7 linked regions of the Homo sapiens genome follow. The protein of the gene in region 6 purifies or fractionates together with the protein of the main gene of each other region. This does not show direct contact. Each region holds a gene or a part of one and is shown on either strand. Other genes may lie near its edges. The genes, in order: C12orf75, CLPX, CCNY, GNG4, CYSTM1, DHRS3 and CCNYL1.

What was found.
Region 1: the proteins of DHRS3 (region 6) and C12orf75 purify together in Homo sapiens (affinity purification with mass spectrometry; one large-scale study listed by BioGRID and IntAct). This does not show direct contact.
Region 2: the proteins of DHRS3 (region 6) and CLPX purify together in Homo sapiens (affinity purification with mass spectrometry; one large-scale study listed by BioGRID and IntAct). This does not show direct contact.
Region 3: the proteins of DHRS3 (region 6) and CCNY purify together in Homo sapiens (affinity purification with mass spectrometry; one large-scale study listed by BioGRID and IntAct). This does not show direct contact.
Region 4: the proteins of DHRS3 (region 6) and GNG4 purify together in Homo sapiens (affinity purification with mass spectrometry; one large-scale study listed by BioGRID and IntAct). This does not show direct contact.
Region 5: the proteins of DHRS3 (region 6) and CYSTM1 purify together in Homo sapiens (affinity purification with mass spectrometry; one large-scale study listed by BioGRID and IntAct). This does not show direct contact.
Region 7: the proteins of DHRS3 (region 6) and CCNYL1 purify together in Homo sapiens (affinity purification with mass spectrometry; one large-scale study listed by BioGRID and IntAct). This does not show direct contact.

What each region holds. Positions count from the first base shown.
Region 1 is NC_000012.12:105,336,778-105,341,544, forward strand, and holds part of C12orf75 (overexpressed in colon carcinoma 1 protein), read left to right. Parts: intron 1-4,767.
Region 2 is NC_000015.10:65,160,399-65,165,165, reverse strand, and holds part of CLPX (ATP-dependent clpX-like chaperone, mitochondrial precursor), read left to right. Parts: intron 1-977; coding exon 978-1,137; intron 1,138-2,520; coding exon 2,521-2,562; intron 2,563-4,767. UniProt on the Homo sapiens protein: ATP-dependent chaperone that functions as an unfoldase.
Region 3 is NC_000010.11:35,569,595-35,573,520, forward strand, and holds the end of CCNY (cyclin-Y), read left to right. Parts: 3' UTR 1-3,073; downstream 3,074-3,926. UniProt on the Homo sapiens protein: Positive regulatory subunit of the cyclin-dependent kinases CDK14/PFTK1 and CDK16.
Region 4 is NC_000001.11:235,582,912-235,587,678, reverse strand, and holds part of GNG4 (guanine nucleotide-binding protein G(I)/G(S)/G(O) subunit gamma-4), read left to right. Parts: intron 1-3,830; 5' UTR 3,831-3,840; coding exon 3,841-3,939; intron 3,940-4,767. UniProt on the Homo sapiens protein: Guanine nucleotide-binding proteins (G proteins) are involved as a modulator or transducer in various transmembrane signaling systems.
Region 5 is NC_000005.10:140,195,193-140,199,959, forward strand, and holds part of CYSTM1 (cysteine-rich and transmembrane domain-containing protein 1), read left to right. Parts: intron 1-4,767.
Region 6 is NC_000001.11:12,569,717-12,573,883, forward strand, and holds part of DHRS3 (short-chain dehydrogenase/reductase 3), read right to left. Parts: intron 3,138-4,167; coding exon 3,012-3,137; intron 1-3,011. UniProt on the Homo sapiens protein: Catalyzes the reduction of all-trans-retinal to all-trans-retinol in the presence of NADPH.
Region 7 is NC_000002.12:207,752,435-207,757,201, reverse strand, and holds the end of CCNYL1 (cyclin-Y-like protein 1), read right to left. Parts: intron 3,615-4,767; coding exon 3,504-3,614; 3' UTR 1,028-3,503; downstream 1-1,027. UniProt on the Homo sapiens protein: Key regulator of Wnt signaling implicated in various biological processes including male fertility, embryonic neurogenesis and cortex development. Activates the cyclin-dependent kinase CDK16, and promotes sperm maturation.

The sequences.
Region 1 (4,767 bases), on a different chromosome or scaffold from region 6:
CTCACTCTAAAAGTAAGGTAGTAAGGGGCAGGTGATCAACATACTCGACTGTACCATGTTTGAAGTGATGATGAATAAAGAGAGGTGTGGAGACCCCTCTGCTCAGGTAGTAATCATTGGTGAGACAGAACCAAGAAGCTCTGTGCATCATTCGCTTGCTGTGTCTCCCCAGAATTGATGGCATCCAAAGCGAGTGATTGATTTCTGCCATTGTCACAGCCTGGTAGGTTCTTTTTGCCCACTGCCCCAAACAAAACCAGCACGGGCCGGGCACGGTGGCTCACACCTGTAATCCCAGCACTTTGGGAGGCTGAGGCAGGTGGATCACCTGACGTCAGGAGTTTGAGACCAGCCTGGCTGACATGGCGAAACCCCATCTCTACTAAAAATACAAAAATTAACCAGGCGTGGTGGCGCACACCTGTAATCCCAGCTGCTTGGGAGGCTGAAGTGGGAGAATTGCTTGAACCCAGGAGGGTTGCAAGTGAGGCTGCAGTGAGCAGCCTGGGTGACAGAGCAAGATCCTGTCTTAAAAAACAAACAAACAAACAAAAACCAATGAGAACAGCAGTTTTTGTGGCAAATAAAGAGTTTAATCATTTCAGGGCTGGCCAAGTGAGGAGAGCAGAGAGAAATTTCTCAAACCTGTCTCTCTGAGAATTCGGAGGCTAGGGTTTCTTAAGGGGACTCTGGTAGGCAGGGGGTTACTGGGGAATTGGAACAATTGATTGGCTGGGGATGAGGTCATAGGGGCATCTAAAACATCTTTGGGCAGTAAAGTCAGTTCCCAGGAAAGGGTTGGTTCTCAGAACCAGGTGGCATCTCTTGATCTACCAAAATGTGAAATCTGAAAACTATGTCAAAGGCCAGGTCTTTAGGTTTCACAATACTGATGTTATCTATAGGAGTATTTGGGGAAGTTGGAAATCTTGTAACCCCTGGTTACGTGACTCTAGTGCAGTAAGCAACTTATAGGAAAGCATGCTAAACAATAGCGGGTCATTGTTTATGCCTATTTTTTAGTAAAGTTTAAGCCCCTACCAGAATTTTAACCTTGCCATATGAATGCAGCTTTGATCTTTGAACAAGGATGGGGTATGGTGGGGGGTGGGGTCAGTTTTCCTTGCTTCAAAGTGTAACTATAAACTAAATTCCTCTCATAGTTATCTTGGCTTCCATGTTAGAGTAAGAGAAAAAAAACCTATGAAATTAAAAGCAAAGCAAAATAGAGTCAGTTATATTAAATTTCTCTCATTATTTATAATTCAGCAAAGGCAGTTTTACCATGAGCCACTTATAGCTCCATATAGACATGGCTTAAATTTTATTATATCAGCTAAATGTCAGTGCACTAACTTATGCCTGTACTTCTTATATGGCTGCATTTATCTTTCATTTATTTATTTATTTATTTTGAGATGGAGTCTTGCTCTGTCACCCAGGATGGAATGCAGTGGCATGATCTCGGCTCAGTGCAACCTCCACCTCCCAGGTTCAAGAGATTTTCCTTCCTCGGCCTCCCGAGTAGCTGGGATTACAGGCATGCACCACCGCACCCAGCTAATTTTGTATTTTTAGTGGAGATGGGGTTTCACTGTGTTGGCCAAGCTGGTCACAAATTCCAGACCTCAGGTGATCCACCCGTCTTGGCCTCCCAGAGTGCTGGGATTACAGGTGTGAGCCACTGCGCCTGGCCATTTTTTGGTTTTTACTTGCCTAAAGTATAGCTGCTTGTCTTAGTTCATTTTTGTGTTGCTATAAAGGAATACCTGAGACGGGGTAATTGATAAAGAATAGAGGTGTATTTGGCTCGTGGTTCTGCAGCCTGTACAAGAAGCATGGCACCAGCATCTGCTTCTGCTGAGGGCTTCAGGCTGCTATCATTCATGGTAGAAGGTAAAAGGGAGCCATAGTGTGCAGAGATCACATGGCAAGAGTGGAAGCAGTAGAGAGAAGGGAGGGAGGTGCCAGGCTCTTGCTAATGACCAGCCAGCTCTCATGGAAACTAATACAGTTAGAGCCCACTTGTTACCACCAGCCATTCATGAAGGATCTGCCCCTATGGCCCAAACACCTCCCATTAGACCCCACCCCCATGAGATTTGGAGGGGACAAACAAACCAAACTCTAGCACTACTCAACAAGGACGACCTATAAAAATGAGATTTTCTATAAGAGCTTCCATTTTCATTGACATAATTTTATGTCAATATATAATTTTATATTTCTAGGACACATTGACCTGAATTTTTTTCCTCCATTATTTGAAGAAATCACTTATGAATCTGTATTTTTTTATTGCACTCTGAAAAATAAGCATTGCTTTGGATGAAGTAATGAGCTGTTGTTCCATTTCTTTTGGCCAAACCAAGACTATGACATAGTTTTATAACTATTGTGGGTCAGAAGAGCATAGCAAGCTGTCAAAATTAAAGAGAATTTTATTTATTTTTCTGCAGTTATATTTATATAGTTCTCGGAGGGACTGTTTCTTTTCTAAAACAAATAAGGAGTAAGACATTCTTGCATGTTTTTATTATTTCCCATAAGAACCATAGGCATTTATGTTTCTGATAATTTATGCTGAAAGAAGAGTGCTTTTTAAATCTTCAGTATTTTTTTTTTTTTTTTACAAATTCTTCACATACATAATTTTATTTCGGGTGTGTGTGTGTGTGAATTATCACCACTTGGTTTGAAGAATGTAACTTAATATGTAACTTAGCAATTCATTTACCTGTGAATATTTCTAGTATATTTTATAAAGTCTAGAGTCTATATAGTATGGTGGTCATAAAAGGTATTAATGGACTAAAATGTATATGACCTTTTCTTTCTTTCTTTCTTTCTTTTTTTTTGAGACGGAGTCTTGCTCTGTCACTCAGGCTAGGTGCAGTGGCGTGATCTCCGCTCACTGCAAGCTCCGCCTGCCGGGTTCATGCCTTTTTCCCGCCTCAGCCTCCCGAGTAGCTGGGACTATAGGCGCCCGCCACCACGCTCAGCTAATTTTTTGTATTTTTAGTAGAGACGGGGTTTCACTGTGTTAGCTAGCTAGGATGGTCTCGATCTCCTGACCTCGTGATCCACCCACCTCAGCCTCCCAAAATGCTGGGATTACAGGCGTGAGCCACCATGCCTGGCCCTTGTTTCTTTTAAAAGATAAAAGTATGTTCTTCATAATAGACTTTGGCATTTGGGAGGAAATACTCACATCAATAAATGTTTGAATCTGTATAATACTGAAGACATGCTGGACAGTATGATTCATGGTTTTTAATGTATACGACAGGCTGATTAGCTCTCAAAGGACCATCTGTCTGTAGGAACCAAGATATTGTGTCCATCTACTTAAAATTACTCAATGCAGGTGGGGCGTGGTGGCTCACGCCTGTAATCCCAGCACTTTGGGAGGCAGAGGCGGGTGGATCACAAGGTCAGGAGATCAAGACCATCCTTGCTAACACAGTGAAACCCCATCTCTACTAAAAATACAAAAAATTAGCCGGGCGTGGTGGCATGCGCCTGTGGTCCTAGCTACTTGGGACGCTGAGGCAGGAGAATCGCTTCGACCTGGGAGGCGGAGGTTGCAGTGAGCCGAGATCGTGCCACTGCAATCCAGCCTGAGCAACAGAGTGAGACTCCGTGCCCCCGCCAAAAAAAAAAAAAAAAAAAATTTACTCAGTGCAGTATCTTGTAGCTGGCTTGTGTTATCATTCACGAGGAATAAAGTTCCGTTTGTGTCGTGCATGATACATATATTACATTTAGTTTCCCTCCAGATACTCATTTTGCTCTGTATTTTAAAAGAGAGTATTTTTTGGAGACAGGGAAGGACAAAGATAAGAAGGTCTAGTGGGTTGAATGGTAGCCCCCAAAAAGATATGTCCATGTTCTCTTTTCTGCAGTGAGTGAATGCAACCTTATTTGGATAAAGGATCTTTGCAAATGTAATAAAGTTAAGGGTTTTGAGATGCGGAGATTATACTAGATTATCTGAGTAGGCTCTAAATCCAATGAGAAGGGTGTTTATGAGAGACACAAGATGAGAAGACGGACATAGAAGGGAAGGTGATGTGAAAATGGAGGTGGAGCAGAGATGATGGGGCCACAAGCCAAGGAATGCTTGCTGCACCAGAAGCCAGGAGAGGCATGGAATGGGTGCTTCCCTAAGGCCTCTGGAAGGAGTTTGGATCTGCTGAGACCTTGATTTTGTACTTCTGGCCTCCAGATCTATGAGTGCATAGATTTCTGTTGTTTAAACCACCCAGTTTGTGGTAATTTGTTACAGCAGCCATGTGAAACGAAGACAATATTTTTCTGCAGTAGTTCAGAAATGAGACAAAATCAGAATATAAGAAAATGTATTAAACTGTATACCTGGAGTATAAATAATTCTTTGCTTAAATAAACACAGCATGATGCAATCTTGGTGTGATTCATAAAGCCCTTCAAGACTGTTCAGAACCTTAACCACTACTAGGACACATACAATTTTTGTATGAAACATAAAGAATGTCTGAGAGGTTTTTTTTTTCCCCCGTTTCCTGACACCTAATTCTTTGACACCAAGTGTCCTGCAATTCAATTCAATTCTAACACTACCTGGAGTTAGTGTCAGCCTCCACAGGTTTAGTGGGTCGGTCCCACAAGACTGCCCTCCCTTCAGACTCTAGTTGCAAATATTGCGCTTCCAGGTTGCCACACTTCTGTCAGCTATAGATTTGGGGGTCTTCACAAATCTCTTCAGGCTCAATGATTTGCTAGAAT
Region 2 (4,767 bases), on a different chromosome or scaffold from region 6:
AGGGTTTTGCCATGTTGTCCAGGCTGGTCTGCACCTCCTGGGCTCAAGTGATCCATCCGCCTCAGCCTCCCAAAGTGCAGGGATTACAGCCGTGAGCCACCAAGCCCGGCAGGAGTTGGTTAATATTAATTCACCAACCATTTCATTTCTATTCACTAAAAACTTAAAAAATTTACCCCAGGTTCCAAGCTGTTGGCAATAACCAACTGTAGAATAGAGCTTTAGCTACTATTAAGAATAAAGTTTTTAGGGCTGAGCTTGGTGGCTCATGCCTGTAATCCCAGCACTTTGGGAAGCCAAGGCAGGAAGATTGCTTGAGCCCCAGGAGTTCAAGACCAGCCTTGGCGACACAGTGAGACCCTGTATCAAAAAAAGAAAAAAATATATTTTTAGAAAATAAAAAAAAATAAGAATACAGTTTTTAGAGTCTCAGATAAATGAGTAGCTTTAAAGTTAATGTCTGAGAAAAAATTAAATTTACTAAAACACATAGATACTGATAGTATAATGGCTTTTGATTATGTAATGCCTGTTTCTGAAAAGAGTAGTTTTATAATGTTATCTTTGTGAAGAATGTTATTCATTTGATTGACAGGTATGGATTTATTTTAATGATTTACATTAATGTTGATACTTTTAGACCATGGTGGCATGTGTATGTATTCTAAGTTACTTTAAATTTAATTTGTTATCAAAAAATAAAGATTGATAGCATTGTTTATAGAATAGAAATTAGCACAACACTAGTAGAGTACAGTGATACTTTGTTAAGCTAGAGAACAAATGAATTGTGTTTTTGTTCATTTAGTGTTCAGGGCCTCTGAATCATTGCTATATAATGTATTGTCATTTTGTTTTTAATGAGAGTCTTTGTTCAGATTTAAAACTGTAAGCAAATATGCTTAGTAAATAACTTTTTAATGTGTGTGCTCTTATAATAGCTCATATTAAATTATTCATACCTAATCATTTTTCAGATTTATAACTACCTCGACAAGTATGTTGTTGGCCAGTCATTTGCTAAGAAGGTGCTTTCAGTTGCTGTGTACAATCATTATAAGAGAATATATAATAATATCCCAGCTAATCTGAGACAGCAAGCAGAGGTTGAGAAGCAGACATCATTAACACCAAGAGGTAGCGTTTTTGATAATTGACCTAAATAGAGATTGCTATGCTTAAAAGTAATCTTTATTTGTAACTCCTCACTTTCTTCTTAAAATGTTTTTTATATAGTGTGGCATTTTTCAAAGTGCAGGTTATTCCCCATTAGTGTGTTATGAAATCATTTGCCAACAGCATTTTTTAAAAATTTGATAGATATGAATAGAAAATAACAGAATACATTAACTTACAGTTAAGGTAAATATTATTTCTTAGGCCTGGCATGGTGGCTTATGCCGGTAATCCCAGCACGTTTGGAGGCCGAGGCGGGGGGATCACTTGAGGTCAGGAGTTCGAGACCTGCCTGGCCAGCATGGGAAACTCCGTCTCTACTAAAAATACAAAAATTAGCCAGGTGGGGTGGCACATGGCTGTAGTCATTATACAGTATACTGTATAATCTCAATTTACTATGGACAATAATGTATATTAATAGAATGATTTATTAAAAACAATTATGCATAGAGTAAATATGAATATTTAATTTTTTGTTTTGTTGGCCAGACAGCCCCAATTTCTGATTTAGGCCTATATTCCATCATTTTAGATTCTTTTAGTTATCACTGTACAGTGTGAAGGAGTTCTGCTAAGTACTTAAATTTATAAGTCTACATTATCTTTGATTGCCTTTAGTAGCAACTAAATGTATAATTTATTTCAATGAAGACACTTGTTCACTTGCTGAACTTACATCACATAACTGCAAAATAGGTATGTGATGGTATCAGTTATTTTTAGAAAGTATAAGTCATAACTAACGGATGACTTGGAACCTTTTTCTTTTTTTCAAGACAAGGTCTCTCTCTGTCACCCAGGCTGGATTGCGACTCACTGCAGCCTCAACTTCCCAGGCTCCAGTGATCCTCCCACCTCAGTCTCCCAAGCAATCCATCTGCCTCAGCCTCCCAAAGTGCTGGGATTAATAGGCGTGAACTCTTGCGCCTGGCCTGAAATCTTCATTTTTATAAGGTCCAAATAGCACTGATAGTTATGGAGCAAAACTTTTTTGTTTTCCTCGGTAATAAATAGATATTTAAGCTATTCTAAGTGCTGGAGGAGCAAATGGTTATAATATTTATAGCATGAGGGGCTTAAACTCTTATTAAAGACTTATGTTATTATACCCTTACAATAGATATCAATTATATATTTGACAAATGTGAATATTAGCAACTGGACAGCGGTCTTTATGCATGGTTTTGTTTTAATATAGAAAAGATATAGCATATATGAAAAGCTGAAAAATGTTAATGAACAAATCCTTTAAATATATTTGAAAGAGGACAGGAGGTGGGATACTCATTGTTTGTTCCCCCAAGGTAAACAAATATGTAATATTTTCATCCTCTTTCTTAGAGTTAGAAATAAGAAGACGGGAGGATGAGTACAGATTTACAAGTAAGTGACTTCAGGTCCTCCTCTGTAATCATTCTTCCTTTTGACATTTATTTCAGTGAAGTGTTTCAGCAGTAACAGTGATAGACATGTATGTATTTGCTTGTGTATTACCAAGAAAGATACGTATTATCTAAATGTGTTTATCCTACATGGTATATATAACTTTGGAATAGTTTTTCATAGCTAATTTGTGTCGTTTCCATATGTTGGGTTATTTTTTATTTTTTCTATCAAACTACAATTAGAGTTGGCCTGCTTCTTGTGGGTCACAGGAATTTGGGGGAGGCAGATTATTTTCTAGCTACTCTTTGCCAGAAAGCACACTGTTTTTTGGTTTTTTTTGTATTTATGAAACTTACAGTCTTACAAATTATGAGTAAGTCTTAATTCACTGTTTCCAGCCCCAGATTGCCCCTACAAGCATCAGATGGTCCGATGGAGGGTGTGGAAGGACTTGATAGACCAAGGAGAGTGGCCTTTCTGTTGTGTTCCACCTATTCCTTTGGAGGTGGATATAGTTAGTTGCTGCATTGAGGGTGGAGGTTCCAGGGGTGTCATAGAAAGATTCACATGGCCTTTTGTTTTAGTAATTGAAATAAAGAAAATTAGCTAAGTTTGATGTTTTTACATTTGCCTTTGAACCAAGTAGTATTATATATCCACTATTTGAAGTGTACTATATATAGGATGAGCCATGAGAATATAACTTGTGTACCAACTTGGGCATGACATTTATCACATGTAATAAAATTACATTATCCCCAGTTATTTTTAAATTTATAGAAATACTGATTATACCATGCGTGGTAAAATTAAGAAATACAGTAAGTGCAATAGAATTAGATTGTATATAAGAATGTAAAATCTAAATAATAACCTTTAGGTATATATGTAATTTATTTCATAATAAAAAAATATATTCAGATATGCAGTCAATACCATACTCATAAATTGTGTTGACAGCTAGTTAACCTATACTAAATTAGTAAAGAAAGTCTGTAGTGCATATTTTGAAAGACATGTCATGTAATATATGTAGTGATTTAATGTTATTTAAATGTTAACAAGTAACAGTATTTAAGAACTTATGTAAAAGATTGACTTAGAAACAAATATTTCAAAAGCTTAAATTTATTGTCATGTGCAGTTTTGTTGTGTTTTACATGGGATTTTAAGTTCTAAAGTTAGGTTGTTAACTAACACTGGCTGGGGGTGTTAGACCCTAACACTGGTCTAGGGTTTTAGACCAAAATCATGTACAATAAGATTAATTCTTATAAGTCCCTTTGGAAGTCAAATTTTAGAGACCAACATACAGCTTTTAGGAGGACTGACACAATTGGCTTTTTTTCTCCATCTTTGGAATATAATGTTGTTTTTTAAGTTGAGCACCAGATGAAATACTTTGTTTGCGTTTAAGGGCTGTGTTGTGTGAATAATTAAACACTAGGGAAATGGTAATAATAATACCAGATTCTTCTGTAACACTTATAAAACTATCTGCCAGGTATTGTTCTAAGTGTTTTGCATATATTCATTTAATCTCCCCTAAACCCATGAGACAGAAACTATTATTTTTATCTCCATTTTAGAAGTAAGAAAACTGAAACACAGAAATTTTAAGTAATTTGTCCGTGGCCACACAGCTGGTGAGCTCTGTGCAGCTAACTACTACACTAGCCTGCTTGCTCATGGTCCTCATTTTAGAGAGCTGTGCTTACACAGTGAGAGATGCACAAACAGGGACTAACTGAAAGAATCGGAGAGTTGTCTCAAGTTTGTTCTAAGGCATATACTCATAAAATGGGATGATGGATATCATCTGTATCATTTAAATTATTTCTTTTTTAAACTTAAATCATTAAATAAGTTAAATACATAGATTATGTGGTTCCACTGTAATTAATATGCCCCTTGCAATTTTGTTCATTTATTCATCTAAATCGTGTGTGTGTGTGTGTGTGTGTGTGTGTGTGTGTGAGAGAGAGAGAGAGAGAGAGAGAGAGAGAGAATGAGTGAATGACAAGCACCTGCTGGCCTTGCTGATCTGAAGCTACATCTAAATCATTTTTTCCCTTTGGGCAGAGCTAAACTTAACCCAAGCCCCTTCCTATGTTATCACAATCCCTAACCAGATTTTGCTGAAATTTTAAAAAGTACTTTGCTAGTGACAATTTAACTATCCTCATACAGCAGACTGAGTTT
Region 3 (3,926 bases), on a different chromosome or scaffold from region 6:
CCTTCTGCTGCTTTTTTGGGATGGGGGTATTTTTGTTCATTTGTTTTTGCCCTGTTTTGATTTTGGTCCCACAGAGCAGGGGATGTAGTTTGTACCCACCATGGCGCAGACTTCCAAATAAATAGTACTGGTCATTTCTCTCTGCACTATTTCTGCGCGCTGTCTTCTGAGCTTTCTTCCTCACCAGTGGGCTGTGCTTGTTCCATTTCTGTACACCCTTATTTTATACCGTTTTTCTTCAACAATGGCGAAATTGACTGTAGTGCTGAACCAAAAGTATCCCTTTCCCTCCTTATTCCTCACCCCAAGAACATTCTAGATCACATGGGTGCTTGTGCCTTCCGATTTTCTTGCATTTGTTTTTTTCCTGACCTGAAGTTGTTGTTACAAAATCAGTCAGACTTTGTGGGCTGAAGGACACGGTGCAGCAGAGGGTGTCCCTGTGAGAGTTCTGCAGAGTGCTGGGCATGTGCCTGGAACTACCGAGTAGGAGCCATTTCTTTGTACCCCTGCCTAATCCATTCCTCTCCTTCCAAGTCCATTGTTGCAAGCAATATTCTTCTCAATTTTTATATGTTTACTTTAAATCAAAGTTAGTCTATTTGTATAAAATTTTTAAAAAATCTAAAAGAAAAAGAAAAAAAACAAGGGTGGGTTGGGTATTCCAGTGGGAAGATCATTGAAGGGAAAAATGTTACTATTTACTGAGGTATTTTTCACAGAATGATTGAATTAAAAAAAACTCAACTTGCATTTTCATTGTGGGTGCTTAGAGAAGTTCTACAAAATTCAAACTGTGAAGGTTTATGCTTCATTAATTATGACCATACTTTTTCATTTTCTGACGATCCCTGATTTCCTTATGGACTCAATAAGAATCTTTTATATCAAGTAAAATGAAAGTTGATGATAGAATATCAAATAGTGAATTTGATATGAAATCTAAGAGTGTGAGTCACTTGCATATGTAATGCTTTGGGTTTTTGCATATTTTCTTAGGTCACAGTGACAGGTTTCTGAGTTGTTTCCCTTTTCAAGTCTCTGGGAGGCCAGTGGCAGCAGCAGGTCTGTGTTTCACCTTCTTCCCATGTGAGCTTGGAAAACTTTGGCATCTTAATTAGTCTTGAATCATACACCTGATCCCCAAACATTGCCTGCTCTCAATGAAACATGCTTTGGAAATGGAAGGGACTCAGAAAGTCGAAATCCCAAGAACTCCAAGCCAAAAGTGTTAGGTTTTAGTGAAATTTGTGTCAGGTATAAGCATACCTGTTTGGGCCAGAATTATTATCACAGCCTTTCTGACCCAAACTTTCAAAAGCAAATAAACAGCATATAAAACGTTAATTATCTTTCCATTGTAATTGTGATGATCTACTCTGTATGGGTACCAAAATCACCTTCTCTCTTCAAGTCAAAGTTGAATTTAGAACTTTGAATACAGGTCAAAAAATGTAGAAAATATCATTTTATATTCCCTAATCTATATAGCTGAAAAAGGGTTGTATTTTCTTAGCTGAATATGAATACCTCTTAAACATAAATTAGTTCCTCTCCAGTGAAGTATCTTATTTTACCAATCCATTTCAGGAAAGAGGTTCTGCTGCCGTAAAGGCAGAAATTTTATTTTTATCCCTTTTATTTGAATGAGAGATTTGAAAATCGAATTATGTAAATATTTCAATGCATCTGCTATTATTTTGTGGAGTTTATTAAACTACTTTAAAAAAATTGTATAGTCTATTTATTGTATGTATGTACATACAGTCTGATACCTAAAATTTAAAGTGGATTCCATAAAACCAGACTCAAGTCTTGTTTAGACTACTGAATACTGTTTTAGCCTGTGCCCTGGATTCTACCTCTGTATAGGAAAATTTTCCATATTCATTAATTAGTGTTGATCTGTATTAATTGGTTATGTTTCTTGCACTAAGGATGTTTAAAACTCCGCTGTAAGTGTAGATTTTAGTTTTACTGGCAGGATGAATCACTTGACACATAGGTAGATACTTGAGGTTCATTTTCTTTTCTTTTTCTACATGATGATGAATAGTTATGTTTTCTTCTCTGATTTGTTCAAAGTTTGCCAAAAGAAAACACAAAACCAGTACAGTACTTACTGATAAATCGTAGTGACTGTAATTTGTTTGTAAGGCGAATTAATGCTCTACAATTAAAGCTGGATTACTATTGAGGAACACATTGTCTTAGTGTAGTTTTTGAATGGAAAGTTTTTGTCATTAAGGATGAAGGAAACGACACAATTTGTTACTTTAATTTTATATTTGATTTAAACAACAAATAAAGTCATTGGGACAATAAATATATATCCCGATGAATCTTTTTGATTTGTTTTACTTTTCTTATTTTTTTTTTTTTAACTAGAAAAAGGGAAAGAAGAAGTCAGGAGTTTAAAACCAAATTGGAGGGCAGATGAGAAATCCTGCCAAGATCGGGATGTGCCTTCATGCATGAGGTGAGGCCAGAGGTGTGGGCACCTGTACCTGCCTCCTCTTCTGGGCTGGCTTTCCTGTCTGCCTGCTCTCGGGCTTGGGCAGAGCCATCTCCATCCTGGGGTTTCCTTTAAGCTAAGCTGAAAGCAAAATTTGGGGAGTGAATGATTTAAACTTTTCCTGCTGCTTTTGGTAACTTCTCACCTGGGGCCATATTTTACAGATTTGAATTTTTTTTTTTCTTTTTTTGAGATGGAGTCTCGCTCTTGTCACCCAGGCTGGTGTGCAATGGTGCGATCTGGGCTCACTGCAACCCCCACTTCCCGGATTCAAGCAATTCTGCCTCAGCCTCCCGAGTAGCTAGGATCACAGGCACCCACCACCATGCCCAGCTGATTTTTGTAGTTTTAGTAGAGACAGAGTTTCACCACGTTGGCCAGGCTGGTCTCAAACTCCTGACCTCAAGTGATCCACCCCCCTCAGCCTCCCAAAGTGCTGAGATTACAGGCGTGAGCCACTGCCCCTGGCCCAGATTTGAAATTTTTTAAAAATAAAACATGATTCTTGGTTATTGTAGGTATTTAATAAATGTTAAATAAATATATACATAGAACAAAGTAGTGCCTGCCTTCCTGCTGTGTTTTTTGAGTTAGTATATTGAGATAAAATTCAACAGGTTTTATGGATGCTGAGTGAACCAGTTCTTTGCAAGAGCAGTGGTAGAAAGTGGTATTGGCCCTGTGTTCTTGAGCGACTCACAAAAGTATGAGAGCTACTCCAGCAATTGAGAAGTTGCACAATAGAGACCTAATAGAACATGTCACTTTCATATTGATACCCCATTTTGTCTGAAACCACTTTATCTCCCTTGATGTCATTGGAGTCAGCATCTTGGGTGGGTCTTAAAGACATTATCTTCTGAAAAGTCAGCCATGATGAGGTCCTACCCTTGTTGAAAAAGAGAAGGAAACAAGAAACATGCTCTTGCACTGAGACAGGAACAGGATACTTAACTTGGGTTTTATATATATATTTATTTTTAAATATATATATATTTTTAAACAGAGTCTCACTTTGTCACTCTGCCTGGTGTGCAGTGGCACAATCATAGCTCACTGTAGCCTCCAACTCCTGGGCTCAAGTGATCCTCCCGCCTCAGCCTCCCTGGGACGATGGGCCTGTGCCACCATGCCCACCTAATTTACTTGTTTTTTTTTTTTTGAGATGGAGTCTCACTCTGTCGCCCAGGCTGGAAGTGCGGTGGTGCAATCTCAGCTCACTGCAACCTCTGCCTCACAGGTTCAACTGATTCTCCTGTCTCAGCCTCCCAAGTATCTGGAACTGCAGGCACACACCACCACACCTGACTAATTTTTGTATTTTTCATAGAGATGGGGTTTCACCATGTTTGCCGGGCTGGCCTCAAACTCCTGACCTCAAGTGATCCGCCGGCCTCAGCCTCCCAAAGTG
Region 4 (4,767 bases), about 220 Mb from region 6:
ACCCCACAGTCACACACACACCCAACACCCTCCCACACTCACACTCCACCCCACATTCACACACCCCACCCCATGCCCTCCCACACTCACACTCACCGCCACCCCACACCCTCCCACATTCACAACCCCAACCCACACCCTGACACACACCCACAACACACCCACCTCACATTCACACACCCCCACCCCCCATCCACACTCTCACACTCACCCCCCACCCTGTACCCTCACACACGCTCACCCACCCTCACACACACACCCCCACCCCTCACCCTCATACATGCTCACACACGTGCTCACACACACACTCACACACACCCCACCCCTGACCCTCATACATGCTCTCACACTCTCACACACACACACCCCTCACCCTCACACACACCCCAACCCACACCTTCACACACACTCACATACACTGTCATCACACACACCCCACCTCACACACTCACACTCACCCACACCCTCACACATACTTTCTGTCACACACACTCACCCCCACACACTCTCACACGCTCACCCCCACCCCACACTTTCACACACTCCTACTCACCACAGACTCCCTCACACACAGTGCAGAGCCCTCCCCTCCTCCCTTTGCCCTGCTCCATGTCCTCTTGGCTTCACCCCTGCTGATCCCAAACTCTACCTCCTCCTCCCCTGAACCTCCCCCAACTCCTAAATGCCCAAGTCAAAGACAAGGGGCGAGAGGGATGGAGTCTAGAATGGGGAGAGCAGGATCAAGATTTGAAGGCAGTCACTGTAGGGTCTGTAGTAGGCTGTTTTGTGTTGCTGTAAAGGAATACTTGATACTGGGTAATTTCTAAAGGAAAGAGGTTTAATTGGCTTATGGTCCTGCAGGTGGTACAGGAAGCATGGCAGCCAGCATCTGTTCCTGGTGAGGCCTCAGGAAGCTTCCACTCATGCAGAAGGTGAAGGGGGAGCCATACTATCACACAGCAAGAGTGGGAGCAAGAGAGACAGCAGGAAGGCGACACACACTTTTAAACAACCAGGTCTTGGATGAACTCAGAGTGACTTTCACTTATCACCAAAGGGTGGCGCTGAGCCCTTCCTGACTGATCTGGCCCCGTGATCCAGTACCTCCCACCAGGACCCACCTCCCACATTGGGAATCGCATTTCGTCATGAGATTTGGAGGGAACAAACATCCAAATCACATCAGAGTCCTTTTTTCATTGCATCAGCTGGGAAGGGTTGGGAACTAGACTGTGTCTCCTCCCTCATTTTGTGTAGACACACAGCAACGCAGACACACATCAGCACACACACACACACGGAGAGATGGCCACACACAGACTGGCACAAGGCCTGCACGAGCAGGCACGTGGGCACATACAGACACACCCAAGGACACACCAACACATGTGCAGGAACGCGTGCACAGTTCTGCTGAGTGGGGGATGAAGGGGATGTTCCTTGGATTTCAAAGCTCCCAACTTGTCGTGATTCTCCTTCCCTTGTTGTTGAGTTAAAGTTCCAAACTAAGATAAGGACACACATCTATTAAACTCTGATTTGGGTGGCTGATCTGTCTTCTAACGAGAATATTTTACTTTTCAAAAACTGCCTTTGGACAAATGTAGTTGCCATTATGCCTTTCTGGGCCAGAGAATTAGTTCATATGTGATTAAAACCCACAGAGAGAGTGGGTCCCATACACTAACCTACTGGCCAAATAGAAAATTTCTTAAAAATTCTAAATGTTTTGTATGAAGCAAGTATAACATTGATATTTAAACCAGATGAAGGTAGCATTAAATGACTTAATTTATTACTTAAGAATAGTACTGAATTCCAAAATTACTTAAGAATCTTGATGCAAAAATTATCAGAATGTTACCTTATAGAATTTGGTAATATATCACAAAAGTAAATATGCATTTACCTTTGACCCAGTAATTCCAGAAATGTACCTTGAAGACACACCCCCACAATAATATGAGAATATAGATGTAAATGCCCGTAAATATATGGATTGAAAAATATACAGTATATCCACACAGTGGAGTACTGTAGTATGTAGTTCTAAGAAAGAATGAGTATGATCTTTTTTGCATATCAGTGAACTAATATGTGGTGCTTTCTAAAATGTATTGCTAAATATAAAAACAAAGTTCAAAAGCACACACACGTTATCTTTTTGTGTAAGAAAGAAGGAGAAATGAGAAAACATATATGTAACTGCTTACTTTCTAAGAAAATAAACACAGGACCAGCCTGGGAAACATAGCAAAAAAAAATTTTTTAATTAGCCAGGCATGGCGGCACACACCTGTAGTCTCAGCTACTCAGGAGGCTGAGGCAGGAGGATCGCTTGAGCCCAGGAGTTTGAGGCTGCAGTGAGCTGTGATTGCACCACTGCATTACAGCTTGGATGACAGAGACCCTATCTCAAAAAGAAGGAAGGAAGGAAGAAGGGAAGGGGAAGGAAAGGAAAGGAAAGGAAAAGGAAAAAGAAGCATAGGAAAGAATAGTCTGGAGTCCAACGTGATGGGAAGGAAGGAAGACCAGAGGGAGGGAGGAAGGGAAGGAGGGAGGGAAGGAAGGAAGGAGAAAAAAGAAGCATAGGAAAGAATAGACTGGAGTCCAGTGTGATTGGTTGCCCATAGGAGGTAGGTGGGAGGGGAGAAAAGGATTGGAATGGGCAGTGAAAGTGACACCTGTGTGAATATCAATTTGCATCATTTTAACTTTGAAAGTATGGTTGCTGCTTTACATACTCAATTAAATTAATACAATAAAGTCCAACAGTTGTGAGGTGGGAAAAAAACCTAAAACTGAAATAAAATATAAACAGAAGCAGACGAATAATAGATGGTGGCCAGGGCCTCTTCCCACCTCATCTGTACCTTTGGGAGCCAGTGTCACTTGTGTTTCTGCTCTCAGTGACCTGTCCCCAGCTCTCAGGCTTTAGTTTTAGGCTTCCTTTGAAGCAGATTCTCATTAGACGGGGCAATTGCAATTGTGATGTGTGTAGCACATGCTTTCTGTGAAACAGGTAGCACTACACTGGTCTTAGTCACGGGGCATCAATGTGTGTAGGGTTAGGGAGAATTTCTTCTGCCTCCCTCTAGAAAATAAATCTATGCTTGGGATAGGGAAGAAAGAGAGAGAGAGTGTGTGTTTGTGCGTGTGTTTATTGTTGAAAACAAACTCTCAACACAAAGTCTGTAAACTTTTTGGAAGGACAACAAATTAAAATTAATAAAGCAATTTTATTCATTAGAAATGTGTGTTATGAGCCATAGATTGTTAGGAGAGGCCATTTGAGACACTCGGCTAGGCTTCAAAGCTTTGAGTTTGAGTTCTGGATCCACAAATGTTGGCTGTAGGATCTTTGGCTATTGGTTTAATTTCTCTGATTTTTGCACTTTCTTCCTTTGCAAAATAGAAATTAATATTGTCCCACCAACTGTATGGGCTGCTAGAGCAATGAATGAGCAAACGTGTGTGAAAGTGAATGATGACTCAAAGCACTATACGAATGTCCAAGCATTACTTATGGTCGTGGTGGTGATGGTGGTGGCAGTGGTGGGGGTGATGGAAAAGTCATTCTGGAACCTTCTGTTCTCTTCTCACTGTCCCCGGGACTGAGAAAGTTTTTCCAAACAAAAGCATCATGTCTTGCTCCTCTTACTCGAATGAGGCATTCCTTTCTCTTATCCCAGGAGGGTTTTCTACCAAATGCTGTCCATGCTCCCAGATGCTCCCTGGCTTGGACAGAGAAGCTGTAGGTGGTGGGAGGTGGGGTTCCCCTACCCTTGGAAGAGCAGCTCTTCTAACCCTTTTACTTTGGTTACTTCTAGGGGCAGTAGAATGAAAGAGGGCATGTCTAATAACAGCACCACTAGCATCTCCCAAGCCAGGAAAGCTGTGGAGCAGCTAAAGATGGAAGCCTGTATGGACAGGGTCAAGGTAAGCATGCATGCGTCAGCCCCACCCTCCGCCCGAAGCTCAGCTCAAAACATTCCTCCTGCTTCCAAAGCAGACTTGTGAGAGTTAACACGTCACCCAGCAGAGCATGCAGCCAACCTTGGCAGCTGTAACATTTACAAATGAGTGTTTGCTTCACAGTTCTAAGTGTGCCCAAGGATTCAAAGGATGCAAAATACACAGTGTGCATGAATTCCATAAGGAGTCTCCAAAAATAGACTCATAATTCATCTCGGCTCTATTTAGCTCCGTTGTCATGCCAATAAGCAAGAAAGAGAGTTTAGCAATGAGATCAATCACTTTTCTGCTGTGATACAGTGCCTTTGAGGTTCAACAACATCGGATATTTTGACAGGATTATTGTTGAGGGTGGAGCTCTGAACCATGCCTGGGTGTGTCAAATATTCCTTTGGTGAAAATGAAGAAAGGTTCCAGACACCTCCCGTTGTATTCATTTCACTGATGAGTGCAGGTCTCTCCACGCTGGGAGGACTGCAGCAAGATGAAGCCACCTCTTCTCCAGATGCCACTCAGAGGTGAGCAGAAGGCCAGGCAAAGCATGTGGCTCTGAACGAGTCCGTGAGCATGACGCTCGTTGACTGTAATAGAGTTGAAAGGAACCCCAACTCTGGTGTCGGGAACCTGATGCCAGGAAGCTCCATGTGTCTGTGGTCTTGGGGAACACAAATCAGAGGTCTCACCTGGGCATCTGGGATTCAAAAAACACAGAATCCATGGCAACGGGCGACTCCTGAAGCCTTCTATGGACAGAGCCTCCCTGACCCCTCCCCTCATGCTAGTGTATGGCTA
Region 5 (4,767 bases), on a different chromosome or scaffold from region 6:
TCAATGAACAGTGAACAGTTATGGACTATATTATATGTACAGAAAGTGAGAGTAAACATTTAGAAACTTTTAGAGCAATTTGGTTTTGCTGTGACATCCAAGTATGTAATCTTGCATTTTACAGAAAGTATCAGTCTGAAAGATTAAAAGTAAAACATCTTGAGGAGCACTGTGCTAGATGTCTTGGTCACTATTTTGTAGCCCTTTGGTTGGCAGAATAGCTGCTCTCTTAATTAGCCCTTTCAGCTTTTTTTTTTTTTTTTTTTTGAGACGGAGTCTCACTCTGTTGCCCAGGCTGAAGTGCAGTGGCGCGATCTCGGCTCACTGCAAGCTCCGCCTCCTGGGTTCACGCCGTTCTCCTGCCTCAGCCTCCTGAGTAACTAGGACTACAGGCGCCTGCCACCACGCCCGGCTAATTTTTTGTATTTTTAGCAGAGACTGTGTTAGCCAGGATGGTCTCAATCTCCTGACCTCGTGATCCGCCCCCCTTGGCCTTCCAAAGTGCTGGGATTACAGGCGTGAGCCACTGTGCCTGGCCAAGATAGCTAATTCTTAAAAAGTGCTTATTATGGCCAGGCACAGTGGCTCATGCCTGTAATCCCAGCACTTTGGGAGGCCAAGGCGGGCAGATCACCTGAGGTCAGGAGTTCAAGACCAGCCTGGCCAACATGGTGAAACCCCGTCTCTACTAAAAATACAAAAACTAGCCAGGCGTGGTGGTACGCGTCTATAGTCCCAGCTACTCAGGAGGCTGAGGCAGGAGAATGGCTTGAACCTGGGAGGCAGAGGTTGCTGTGAGCCAAGGTCACACCATGCACTCTAGCCTGGCGACAGTGAGACTCCATCTCAAAAAAAAAAAAAGTGCTTATTGTGTGTCACATGGTCTCCTAAGTGCTTTATATACATTAACATTTAATCCTTGCAACAATCCTATGAAGTTATTCCCATTTTATAGTGATGTAATAGAGGTACAAAGTTAGAGTAATGACTTGCCCAAGGTCACCTAGCTAGAAGGGGCACTTTCTAGATTAGAATCCTGATAGCTTGGCCTCAAAATCTGTACCTATAATTTATTGCTGTACTGTTGTTCCTCTCCTGCCTTTTCTGAGCTGACTCACATTCATCTGAATTTAGTGACTTATGCTTCCTCTTAGAGATTTTCCTGTCATTTAGTTCTTTACTAATCAAAAGTAATAACAGAATTGATGGCTAATTTTATTCTAGGACTTGATGATTCTCTAGAATAAGAATTTTGCATTCATGGAAAAGATTATACTTTTATAGTGGCAAAGCTTATACTCTGTTAAGATTGAATAGAATATTTGAATACCTTTAAAGAATTTAATTTATCTGGAAGGAAGCTTTTGCAATCCAAGATTGTGTTCTGTTGTAACAGTTTTTATCATGCATGCTCGGAAGAGGGCAGGAAGTATAACCAGTATAATCGGAGTAGTTGGTATTCAGGCCTGTGACATCAGAGAAACATTTTCTGAAAATAAACCTCAGCTTCTGGGTTTTCTGCTTCAAAATAAGGTAACCCTGTGATGAATAAAAGAAAGCAGAAAAGACTACATATGGTATGATTCCATTTATGTGAAATTCAAAAACAGACAAAAACTATGTATGATGCCAGAGATCAAAATAATGGTTACTCCTGGCTGTGGAGTTGGGAAACTAGGGTGGGACTGGTTATTCATTGGGTTAGGAACAAAGGAACTTTCTGGGGTGTTAGGAATATTCTGTATCTTAATCTTGATATAAACATTCTTCAAGATAGATAGTTATGACTTGTGTACTTTGCTGTACGTTTTATGTCAGCAGAGAAAGATAGCCCAGCATTTGAGTTATCCGGTAGACTCAACCCAATGCCTGCCTGGTGTTAGGTCTTTCACCTATAGCCCTCATGGTCTTCCTGTCCATTTCTAGGCCAATATTGTTTATACTGACTCTCTAACTAGCATTTGATGAGTTTAGAACTTTATTGAGTTTGTTTAGAATAAGTGCTTCCTAGGTTCAGTGGACTTTGTCCACTGTTCATGCAGAAAATACAGATTTGGTCATCTTTCTTACCTTTCATGTAATTTAAGTATTGATGTCAGCCTTTTTGATGAAAAATAATTTCTTAATTCTTTTTAGGGTTAAAAGGCTCCTTAGTTCAGTGTTACCAATCACGATTGATTTCACAAATGCAGTTGAAAGCTGTTTAATATCCTTTCCTATGGATATACCCAGGAATTTATTTCTCTGTCATTAGCTTGTGAATTATTAACTGCCCAGATCCTTTCTGCACCCAAACATAGCAGGTAGTGCCAAATGGTCAAATTTTGTCACCTGGGGTCCATGTTCTGTGAATGGGACTCTTGGAAGAATGTAGCCTCACTGAGTGATGAACCCTTTAGGGACCCATTTTATTCCTTGCTTTGGTATTGCTTGTGGGATTCTCAGTCAGAATTATGTGTTCTCATGCTGTGTATCTGAGCTCTATATGGAAATTTAAGCTTTTTCTTTCCAGCTGAATGATTTTAGATTTATCTACTACTGTAGATACTCTCTCCACTCAAGTTCAAGTGTGTGGCATATTATGTTAATGGATACATAGGTAGAAATGGTTTCTTTTTCAAAGGAGGGAGGATCTCCTTTATCCTTAATTGGCGTCTGGTAATTAGTTAGGGCTTAATAAAGGTGTGATGAATGGATGAGCAGGGTCGGGTAGATGGCTAACCTAAGCAGAACCTTCCTTGGTCATCTGTTTATGTTTTAGAATTCATGTGTCAGAGATTGTAGCAAAAAAACCCACCTTTTGTTTTTTTAAGAAGCCAACCTTTTGGAAGCCATGTGATTGGAAGCAGCAAGTGCTTGTAGGAATAAGGTCTCCCAGAAGAGCATACCTGCAGATTATGTCAAGGATCTCCTGGGTGGTTTTTAAGAATAACAACTAGTATTTGTTGAGCACCATGCTTGGTGTTAGCTTTATGTAATCTTCACAACAACCCCATAGTATCAGTCCCATGTTATAGGAGTGGAATCTGAGACTCAGAAAGGTTGTTTCAGTTATCTGTTGTATAACATATCACCCCCAACTCACTGGCTTAAAACAACAATGATTTATTATTTCTCATGATTCTCTGAGTTGGCTGGGAGGCTCTTCTTGCTTCGTGTGATCTTTCGTGGGGTCACTCTTGTTACTTAATTCAGCTGTCAGCCTGTCTGGGTGTAGGCTATCCAAGATGACCTCACTGACATGAGTAGGGTCTTGGTTTGCCTCCACGAGGCCTCTCTCAGCACATAGTCTGTCATCATTAGGTGGTCTAGCTTAAGCTGCTTTACATGACAACTAGCTTCCAATAGAGTGAAAGTGGAAGCTGCCAGGATTTTGGGCTAGGCCCAGAACTGGCACAGCATCACTTACCCCTTATTCCAGTATTCAAAACAAGTCTCAAGGCCAGTCACTTTCAACAGGAGGGGGAACAGATATCACCTTCCTCCTCCCCCTCTTTTTTTGGTATATTCGACATACAATTCATGTACCATACAATTTACCCATTTAAAGTTGTACAATCCAATGGTTTTCAGTATATCAACAGAGTTTTTCAACCATCACCACTATCATAATTCCAGAACATTTTCTTTTATTATTATACTTTAAGTTCTAGGATACATGTGCAGAATGTGCAGGTTTGTTACATAGGTATGCATGTGCCATGGTGGTTTGCTGCACCCGTCATCTACATTGGGTATTTCTCCTAATGCTATCCCTCCCCTAGCCCCCCAACTCCCCGACAGGCCCCAGTGTGTGGTGTTCCCCTCCCTGTGTCCATGTGTTCTCTTTGTTCAGCTCCCACTTATGAGTAAGAACATGTGGTGTTTGGTTTTCTGTTCCTGTGTTGGTTTGTTGAGAATGATGGTTTCCAGCTTCATCCATGTCCCTGCAAAGGACATGAACTCATCCTTTTTTATGGCTGCATAGTATTCCATGGTGTATATGTGCCACATTTTCTTTATCCAGTCTATCATTGATGGGCATTTGGGTTGGTTCCAAGTTTTTGCTATTGTGAATAATGCTGCAATAAACATACCTGTGCATGTGTCTTTATAGTAGAATGACTTATAATCCTTTGGGTATATACCCAGTAATGGGATTGCTGGGTCAAATGGTATTTCTGGTTCTAGATCCTTGAGGAATTACCACACTGTCTTCCACAATGGTTAAACTAATTTACGCTCCCACCAGCAGTGTAAAAGTGTTCCTATTTCTCCACATCCTCTCCAGCATCTATTGTTTCCTGACTTTTTATTGTTTTTGTTTTGTGTTTTTTGAGATGGAGTCTCACACTGTCGCCCAGGCTGGAGTGCAGTGGCGCGATCTTGACTTACTGCAACCTCCACCTCCGGGGTTCAAGCGATTCTCCTGCCTCAGCCCCCTGAGTAGCTGGGATTACAGGCATGCGCCACCATGGCTGTAATTTTTGTATTTTTAGTAGAGATGAGGTTTCACCATATTGGTCAGGCTGGTGTTGAATTCCTGACCTAGTGTTCTGCCCACCTTGGCCTCCCAAAGTGCTGGGATTACATGCGTGAGCCACGGTGCCCAGCCGTTTCCTGACTTTTTAATGATCACCATTCTAACTGGCGTGAGATGGTATCTCATTGTGGTTTTGATTTGCATTTCTCTAATGACCAGTGATGATGAACTTTTTTTCATATGTTTTTGGACGCATAAATGTCTTCTTTTGAGAAGTGTCTGTTCATATTCTTTGCCCACTTTTT
Region 6 (4,167 bases):
CACCATGCCCGCCTAATTTCTGTATTTTTAGTAGAGACAGGGTTTCGCCATGTTGGCCAGGCTGGTCTTGAACTCCTGACCTCAGGTGATCTGCCTGCCTCGGCCTTCCAAAGTGCTGGGATTATAGGCGTGAGCCACTGCGCCCGGCCCTTTTAGTTATTTTTAATCGTACAATTAAATTATTATTAACTATAGTCACCCTGCTGTGCTATCAAAGACTTGTTCTTATTCGGTCTATTTTTTGTACCCATTAAAAACAAATGATGGTTAGGTGCCACTAAGTAGGTGACAATGGCTTAATCTGTCTGTGCTCCTTGTCGAGGGGAGTGCTGACCTTCTCTCCCTTCATACAACACACTTTCAAAACCAGGCTCTTAGCATCTTGGTGCCCACAGGCAGCTCAGAGATCCATCGATCCCAACTGCCCCTGATTCCACAAAGATGACGGTGTGGATCTGAGGAATCAGGTTCGATTTGGGTGTCACATCCTCTGGGGAAGCGTCCTGGGCTCACCTTCAGGCTTCTCCTCGTACAACCGGAGTTCCGACGCTTCCCCAGCAAGCCCTGGTGTAGTCCCCACCCGTTTACTTGTCAAGCCTGTGGGGGCCTTCATGGCGGGTATTTCATCTCTGATCCCCAGGCCCTCACATGGGCCCGGCACAGAGAGGGCCCTCAGGCTGTTTGGTGACTCAAACTGAAGGGTCCTGGCCCACTCTAAGTACAAGATGAAAAGGGTTCACTTCCAGCTGGAGCAATCTGGAAGGCTTCCTGGGGGTGGTGGTATTAGAGTTGAGCCTTGCTTTCTCCTGGGGAAGGTGAGGAGGGATGCAGTTCAGAGAATGGGGAGCGGGGTGGCTCCTGCTTCCTGTTCAAAAGTAGTTGTGGGGAAGGTTGGAAAATGAAGGCTGAGGGCTTACTGTGGAGAGCGCTGAGGTGTTCTAGACCAACTTTTCTCTAGAAAGCTCTGGAAGTCTTCTAAGAAGCTCCCCTGAGGTGGAGGGTGGCAGCCTGACCTCAGTGAGGACCTGAGCCCCTGATCAACTAGGGGCTCCTAGAGACGGCTGAGGAGCATCTCAGACCCGAGGTCAGGATGGACTGAGGGAGGCCGAGGTGTGGCCTGGATGCCCCTGGGTGCCCCCTTCCCTGTGCCTCTGAAAGGGCTTTGAGTTTGGGGAAGAGAGGGCTGATCGGGCTTGCGCCTCAGTTTCGAGGTTTCTGTGCCCTGCATGTGTTGGGGCAGCCCCTCAGCTGGGGCTCACCATGTCCCAGCAGCCAGGGCAGAAGTTGGCTTTCCTGGGAGTGCATGTTGCATGAGAGCAGGGGCCAGCCTGGCACTTGGGGGCTTACCTTCCTGAAAAGGACTTCCAGGTCAGAGGGGCTCAGTCAGGAGGGGGCCAGAGCCCCAGGGGAGCCAAGAGCCCATGGTCACTTGTGGCACCAGGGACAAGGATCTCCTGCTGTACTAAGAGGCCCAAGAAAACTGAGTGTGGGACTGGGATGGGAAGGATTTGCTGCACAAAGCCTGGAAAGTTCTAGGGGAATAGGATGCCAGGCAAATTCTGGAGGAGGAGTCTCTCATTTATAAAGCCTGCCTCCCCAAAGTGGTCTGCCCTGCTACATCCCACCCGACTGGTACTAAGACGCTTCTGTGAATTCTGAGCCCTTGGCATCAAGATCCCCATGTTCCCTCTAATAGTAAACTTCCTGAGGGCAGGGGCTATGTCCAATAGGCTGTAGAACAGTGGTTCTCAAAGTGAGGTCCAGGAACCTTTGGGGTACCCGGGATCTCTTCAGGGGTCTGTGAGGTCAATTTTTTTTTTTTTTTTTTTTTGAGACGGAGTCTTGTTCTTGTTGCCCAGGCTGGAGTGCGGTGGTGCGATCTCGGCTCACCTCAACCTCTGCCTCCTGGGTTCCGGCAATTTTCCTGCCTCAGCCTCCCAGGTAGCTGGGATTACAGGCACACGCCACCACACCCAGCTAATTTTTTTTGTATTTTTAGTACAGACAGGGTTTCTCCATGTTGGTCAGGCTGGTCTCGAACTCCCAACCTCAGGTGATCCACCCACCTCGGCCTCCCAAAGTGCTGGGATTACAGGCGTGAGCCACCGTGCCCGGCCACATTGTTTCTGTAATAATACTAAGATGTTATTTGTCTTTTCACTTTCATTCTCTCAGTGAATGGTAGAATTTTCCAGAGGCTACGTGACACGAGATATCACAACAAATTGAAATCAGATGCACATATAAGAATCCAATTGTCTTCAATTAAGCCAAACAAAGAGATTTGCAAAAAGGTAGAACAATGCCACTCCTGACTACATTTATTTTGTTTTAGAATACATAACTAGTTGTCATAAAAATATATTTATATTAATGTAATGGGTTTGTTATAGCTATTTATAAATGAATAAATATTATAAACAAATGTATACAACTTACAACATTTTTCTGGCTTTTAATTTCTTTTTTGAGATGGAGTCTTGCTGAGTCACCCAGGCTGGAGTGCAGTGGCACGATCTCGGCTCACTGCAAGCTCCACCTCCTGGGTTCACACCATTCTCCTGCCTCAGCCTCCCGAGTAGCTAAGACTACAGGCGCCCACCACCATGCCCAGCTACTTTCTTTTTGTATTTTTAGTAGAGACAAGGTTTCGCCATTTTAGCCAGGATGGTCTCAATCTCTTGACCTCGTGATCCACCTGCCTCGGCCTCCCAAAGTGCTAGGATTACAGGCGTGAGCCACTGCGCCTGGCCCTGGCTTTTAATTTCTAATATAGTAAATAGCGATAGCTACAACTCACATTAACAAAAGCTCTTTGGGTTCCTCCATACTTTTTAAAACTCTAAGGGGCCCCGTGACTAACAAGTTTGAGAACTGCTGCCCCACAGTAAGTACAGTACATCAGCAGCAAATGTGCCAGCACTCCTCATGCTCATGCCCGCAGCAGACATGACTAATAGATCACATGCGTACTTTCCCCTGACCCAGAGTGTTCTTTCCCAGCCCCATACCTTTTCAAGATAACGAGGGCATGCATTGTCCATGGGAGGAGGAGGAGGGCCTGGTTGAGCTGCACAGCTTCCACTGTCCTCCGGGCCACCGTCTCCGGCTTCAGTGGGGGAAAGAGGTTGGGAAACCTGAACACAGGAAGAGACACAGTGGGTTTCTCCTGGAGAGGCATGTGCTTATCTGGAAGTCTTTATGAGGCTGACATGTCTGGGTCACCCTTTGGCTTTTCCTGTCTGAGAGATTCGAGGCCTGCTTGGAATACTCCCTCTACCCCACACCCATCCAGGTGCCACATTCCCTCACTCCTCCAGGCACACAGGGGTCTCTTCTTGAGTCAAGGACTTCTAGCCCACCCACTGGGGACCCACTCTCCCAAGCCCTCCAAGGGCTCCCAGTGCCCTAGGGCTTGGCCTTTCCATGGCCCTGCGTAATCTGGGCCCTGGTTGTCCTTCTGAGTCCTTTTCCCTACACTCTGCTCCTTCAGGACAGGCCCATTTCTGTTCTTGTCACATCACATGCTCGGGTCAGGGCTTTTTGCCAGCTCTCTCAACAGCCTGGCTCTCTCCTCCCAGCTCCTCCTTTGGGAGACATTTCAGGCCAGTCCATCCAAAGCGACCTCTGATCCTGTCCCCTGCTAATTTCCTTGACCGCGTTCACCCCACCTAGGAAGACCTTGCTTTTTGGGTTGTTTCCTTGTCAGTGGCCTGTCTCCGCCATCAGGCAATGAGTTCCATGAGGGTGGAGGCCTGGTCGGTCCTGCTCCCCTGCATCTAGCACAGCATCTGATACATAGTATGTGCTCAATAAATACTTGAAGGACTGAACACACTGATGACTTGCTGCTTCCCAAATGTGTCCTGCTCATTCTGTCTGGAGGCAGGGGCTTGGCTAGCGATGGCTGGGGCTCAGCTTGCTGGTTCACTAACTCACTCACTGATTCATTGATTCAAAGATTTGCACAGTGCTTTCCATGGGATCTCAAAATGAATGAATGAATGATTGCATAAGCAAACATCAGGGGCTTCTCATGACTATTTAAAAGCATCTGACCCTAGATCCAAACAATGATGATGTTCCCTACGTGCCAGACTCATGTACAAATTATTCTCCTGATTTACAGATAAGGAAACCGAGGCTGTATTGAGTCAGTAGGGCGCT
Region 7 (4,767 bases), on a different chromosome or scaffold from region 6:
TCTTTTGAGCCGGAGTTGCAGTGTCGCCCAGGCTGGAGTGCAGTGACGTCATCTTGGCTCACTGCAACTTCCGCCTCCAGAGTTAAGGGATTCGCCTGCCTCAGCCTCCCGAGTAGCTGGGATTACAGGCGTGCATCATCACACCTGGCTTTTTTTTTTTTTTTTTTTTTAAATAGAGACGAGGTTTACCATGTTGGCCAGACTCCCGACCTCATGTGTTGTGATTACAGGCGTGAGCCACTGCACCGTCTTTTTTTGTAATTTCAATAAAGACGAGGTTTCACCATGTTGGCCAGGATGGTCTCAAACTCTTGGCCTCAAGTGATCGACCCACCTTGGGCTCCCAAAGTGCTGGGATTACGGGCGTGAGCCACCGTGCCTGACTGTGATCATTTACTTAAATATTTGACTTTAGGTAATGAAGAATTAAAGTGGATGAAAATATTGCAATGCTATCAGGATTTATTGAGAATTGCTAAAGCTGAGTGGCTAGACTCTTAGTTCTAAAGAAACCTAATAGTGACTTGGTATATTTTTAACTGAAATGTAAGCTTGAAAATAGCACATTAAAGTCAAATTATGTGGCTTAAGACATCCTCTCAACAGCAACACAAATTCTAGTTCCTGTCTTTCCATTCTCTTTCCTGTTTGTCTGAAAACCTCAAATACCTCTTGTTCTAATTCTACGCTATTCCTTTAATTCCTTTCTCTTTGATACATTTTGCTTAATTTTATATTCTAATGTGCTTTTCCCTCTCAGACACGATAACCAACTATTCAAGATGCCATCTAATGCACTATGCCATTAAGTATTGTGGTCAGTGATTTTAAGTGTAATAAATTATCTTCAGGTTGAAAAGAGCATATGCAAAAGAAATGGATCACTACATCTTAACTAGAGGCATGGATCAAATCAACTTATGGTTGGTTTGAAAATGCTTTAAGACATATCAGGATTGACTTAAAACTAGGCTGGGCAGAGATGTAACACTATGTGGATAGAAGTGTTACAAACACACTAGCCATATTTTAATTAAAATAGAGTTTATTAGCTTTTAATATAAACATGAGAAATAAAAACCACATAAATTGTAGCATTCTTTTCAAAATAAAACTGCAATCAATACTTGAATCTCCAAACTCTGAATTCCATAAACAATATTTGTTTTTTTGAGGTGGTAGATTGTAATATTTGTATACCATTATTTATCATTTATGTCTCTGTCCTTTAAAAATGATGGAAACTGCAGCACAATATGATGTGAAGCATTGCTATAATAGAGGAAGTACTCCTGTCCCAGAAATGCTTTGTTTATAAGCAAGATTCCTAGGATTAGATTTGAGAAAGTAGGAGAAACAGATTTCACATAGTTGAGAACACTAACCTCTTCTTAGTATTTCAAATTTAGGTGACATTATCGGTCTCCTAAAATTATTTGCTCCTTGCCTTTTAAAGCCTGAAGAGTTCCTAAGGGTTATGTAAGTATTTCTTAAATAGCAGGACTTAATGGGACACCTACAGCTTGGTAGCATGTAGGATGATAAAACAGCTGTTCATATCACCTTCTATAATTAGGGTCCAATTCCTTTTATTACATGTTAATTAACACTGCTCTTCAAAATCTTCCTTTAAAGAAACTGCGGTAATCAAAGCATATAGAGCACAGCTCTGCGGGTAACTACTTTTAAAAAGAGGGCATTTTATGGAGATACAAGGTATTCCAAAAGTTCAGTGTAATTTTAAGCTTTGATACTTGTAGAAATATAAATGCTACAAACCTTTACAAAACCTTGTCTGAACATTTTTCTTCTGCTTTTTTCTTTGAGACAGGGTCTGGATGTCGCCCAGGTTGGAGAGCAGTGACATGATCATGGCCCACTGCAGCCTTGACCTCCTGGGCTCTACTGATCCTCCCACCTTAGCCTCCAGAGTGGCTGGGACTACAGACACATGCCACCATATCCAACTATTTTTATTATTTTTTTTTACAGGCAGGGTCTCACTATGTTGCCTAGACTGGTCTTGAACTCCTGCACTCAAGCAATCCTTCCACCTCAGCCTCCCAGGGTACTGAGATTACAGGCATGAATCACTATGCCCAGCCCATTTCTTTTGCATTTAATTTTGCATTTTTCTAAGAGATGGGGTCTTGATAACGTTGTCCAGGTTGGAGTGTAGTAGCTATTCCTATAGGCACCATCATGGTACACTGCAGCCTCCAATACTTGACCTCAAGCAATCCTCCAGCCTCAGCCTCCCAAGTAGCTGGGACTATAGGCGTGCACCACCACACCCAGCTTCATTTTGCAAATTTTGAATATAAAGCTTTTAATTTTTTGTTTCAGTCAATGTCTGCTATCAAGAGTGACCGAAACAAAAAATTAAAAGCTTAATATTCAGGAGACAGGTGCCAGTTGCACTTGTAGTCCCAGCTACTTGTGTGGCTGAGGCTAGAGGATGGCTTGAGACCAGGAAGTTCTAGGCTGCAGTGAGTGCACAATGATTGCACCTGTGAAAAGCCACTGCACTCCAGCCTGGACAACGCAGTAAGACCCCCATCTCTTTAAAAACAAACAAAACAAAACAAAAAACTTTCAAATCATGTTTTTTAAAGGTTTATAGCATTTATACTCATGCTGCAGTGCCTTGGAGGGCCCAAACTATATTCAAGCTTAAAACTGCTTCACTTTTTCTCATCGTCACTGAACCACCATGTTGGTTGGCATTATGAAAATATCTTTTAATACATTTATTTAGCAAGAGAAAAATTATCAGAAAATGAGAAGCACCATTTATAGTTCACAAGAAATGCAACATGGACTCCAATAGAAGTAGATATCAATAACTGATACTTCCTCTGTTTATGACCCCAAACATGCTAAAATGCTAAAGTAATGCTTGCAAAGAATATGAATGACAAATGTTATCCAGCAGCTTTTTGGTTTAAAATGATTGCCAATGACTAGCAGCTTCAATGGTAACAGTAGGGAGGAAGAACCCTTCAGTACCTAACAACGCTGCTGTCTGCTCCTAAGTGGCTTTAGTTAGAGTCCCATGTTTTAATGGTAATACTGCATTGATTTTAAAGGCATATGCAGCAAAATGCGGGGGGAGGGAGAGAAACTGGAAGAAACATAAAAGTTATATGGTTAGTGTCTTTAAAGTCTAAAAATTTAAACTATTGTTTAAAAAACCTTACATAGTTCACAGCTATCGGCCCACACAGTAAGCAAATATCTGTGTGTAGGATGGGAGCCTTCACTTTGGAGTGGTTTTTGTAACTCTGTTTACATTAAAAAGGACAGAAGAGTGTTTTGTTGCATTGACAAGGTCCCATTCTTTCCTGTGGAGTATAATCCTTGTTGTCCATGAGTCTCTTGAATTTGAGATCTTTCCTTTTGATGAAAACACTAATTTTGCTGGTTTTTGAGCAGGAAAGGTGGTATTTCTCCAGTCTTTGTAGATGAAGGTCCCATGACGTTATAACCCCTCATTTCTCCTTTTAAGAGAGGATGGCTTTAGAGCGCTGAATACCAATGAAGTTATCAGCACTGAAAGACCTTCTCATAGCGGCTCTACACAAGTCTTTGTCTTCACACAATCTAGAAATAGCCTAGGAAAGTCAATCAAATAGAAAACAGGTACAATTTTAAAAAGGGTTCCCGCCTTTGAAAGAGCACCATTGTGAAAGCCACACATGTGGACTCCTTTAGATAGTTCACAGTTACAGCTACTTTGGCTGAGTTTTACACTGCCAGGTTGTGGGGACACTACTTCCTGACAGTTCACCAAGGTAATATCCTTTAAGGGCTATGGTTAGATTCCCAGAGAACAAAGGGGAATTTATTATATTATTAAAAAACTGGATTCCCAAAGATATCAAAGGTATTGTGATAGGGCTCCTAACAGCAATAGCATCTGTTATCTGTTAACTTATTCCTTAAATATAACAAACGTACACTTGTGCAAAAAAATGTTTATTCAGCTATTCAAATTCTACCCAATCCTTATTAGCTATTATATACTCAAAGCACATTTTAATGAGGCAGGTGTGTGCTGGACTATACTGGAACATATGAGCGGTCTGATGACTGACGCGCCAAAAGGTATTACTTCACATGCACGTTAATTATGGTAGAAATACATATTATTATTTTTTTCTTTTTTTTTTTTGAGGCAGAGTTTCGCTCGTTGCCCAGGCTGGAGTGATCTCAGCTCATTGCAACCTCTATCTCCCAGGTTCAAGCGATTCTCCTGCCTCAGCCTCCCAAGTAGCTAGGATTACAGGCATGTGCCACCATACCCAGCTAATTTTTTGTATTTTTAGTAGAGACAGGGTTTCACCATGTTGGCCAGGCTGGTCTCAAACTCCTGACCTCAGGTGATCCCGCCTGCCTCGGCCTCCCAAAGTGCTGGGAGGAATGAGCCTCTGAGGCATGAGCCACTCTCAGGCATGTGCCACTGAGCCCAGCCTAGAAATACATATTATTCTAAAGTACCACCAAGGTACCACAGAAAGTGTTAGTTTAAAATATGTGTCCATTTCAGTTGTAATTCTGCTGTATACTCACCAAGAGTCATAAGCCATAAATATTACTTTGCCCCATAAAGTTACCATTTCTATTAAAAACCCATGTACTTCCTACATTATTATTTTTTTTTTTTTGAGACAAGGGTCTTGCTCTATCGCCCAGGCTGGAGTGCAGTGGCATGATCTCGGCTCACTGCAGCCTCCGCCTCCCGGGTTCAAGCAATTCTCATGCCTC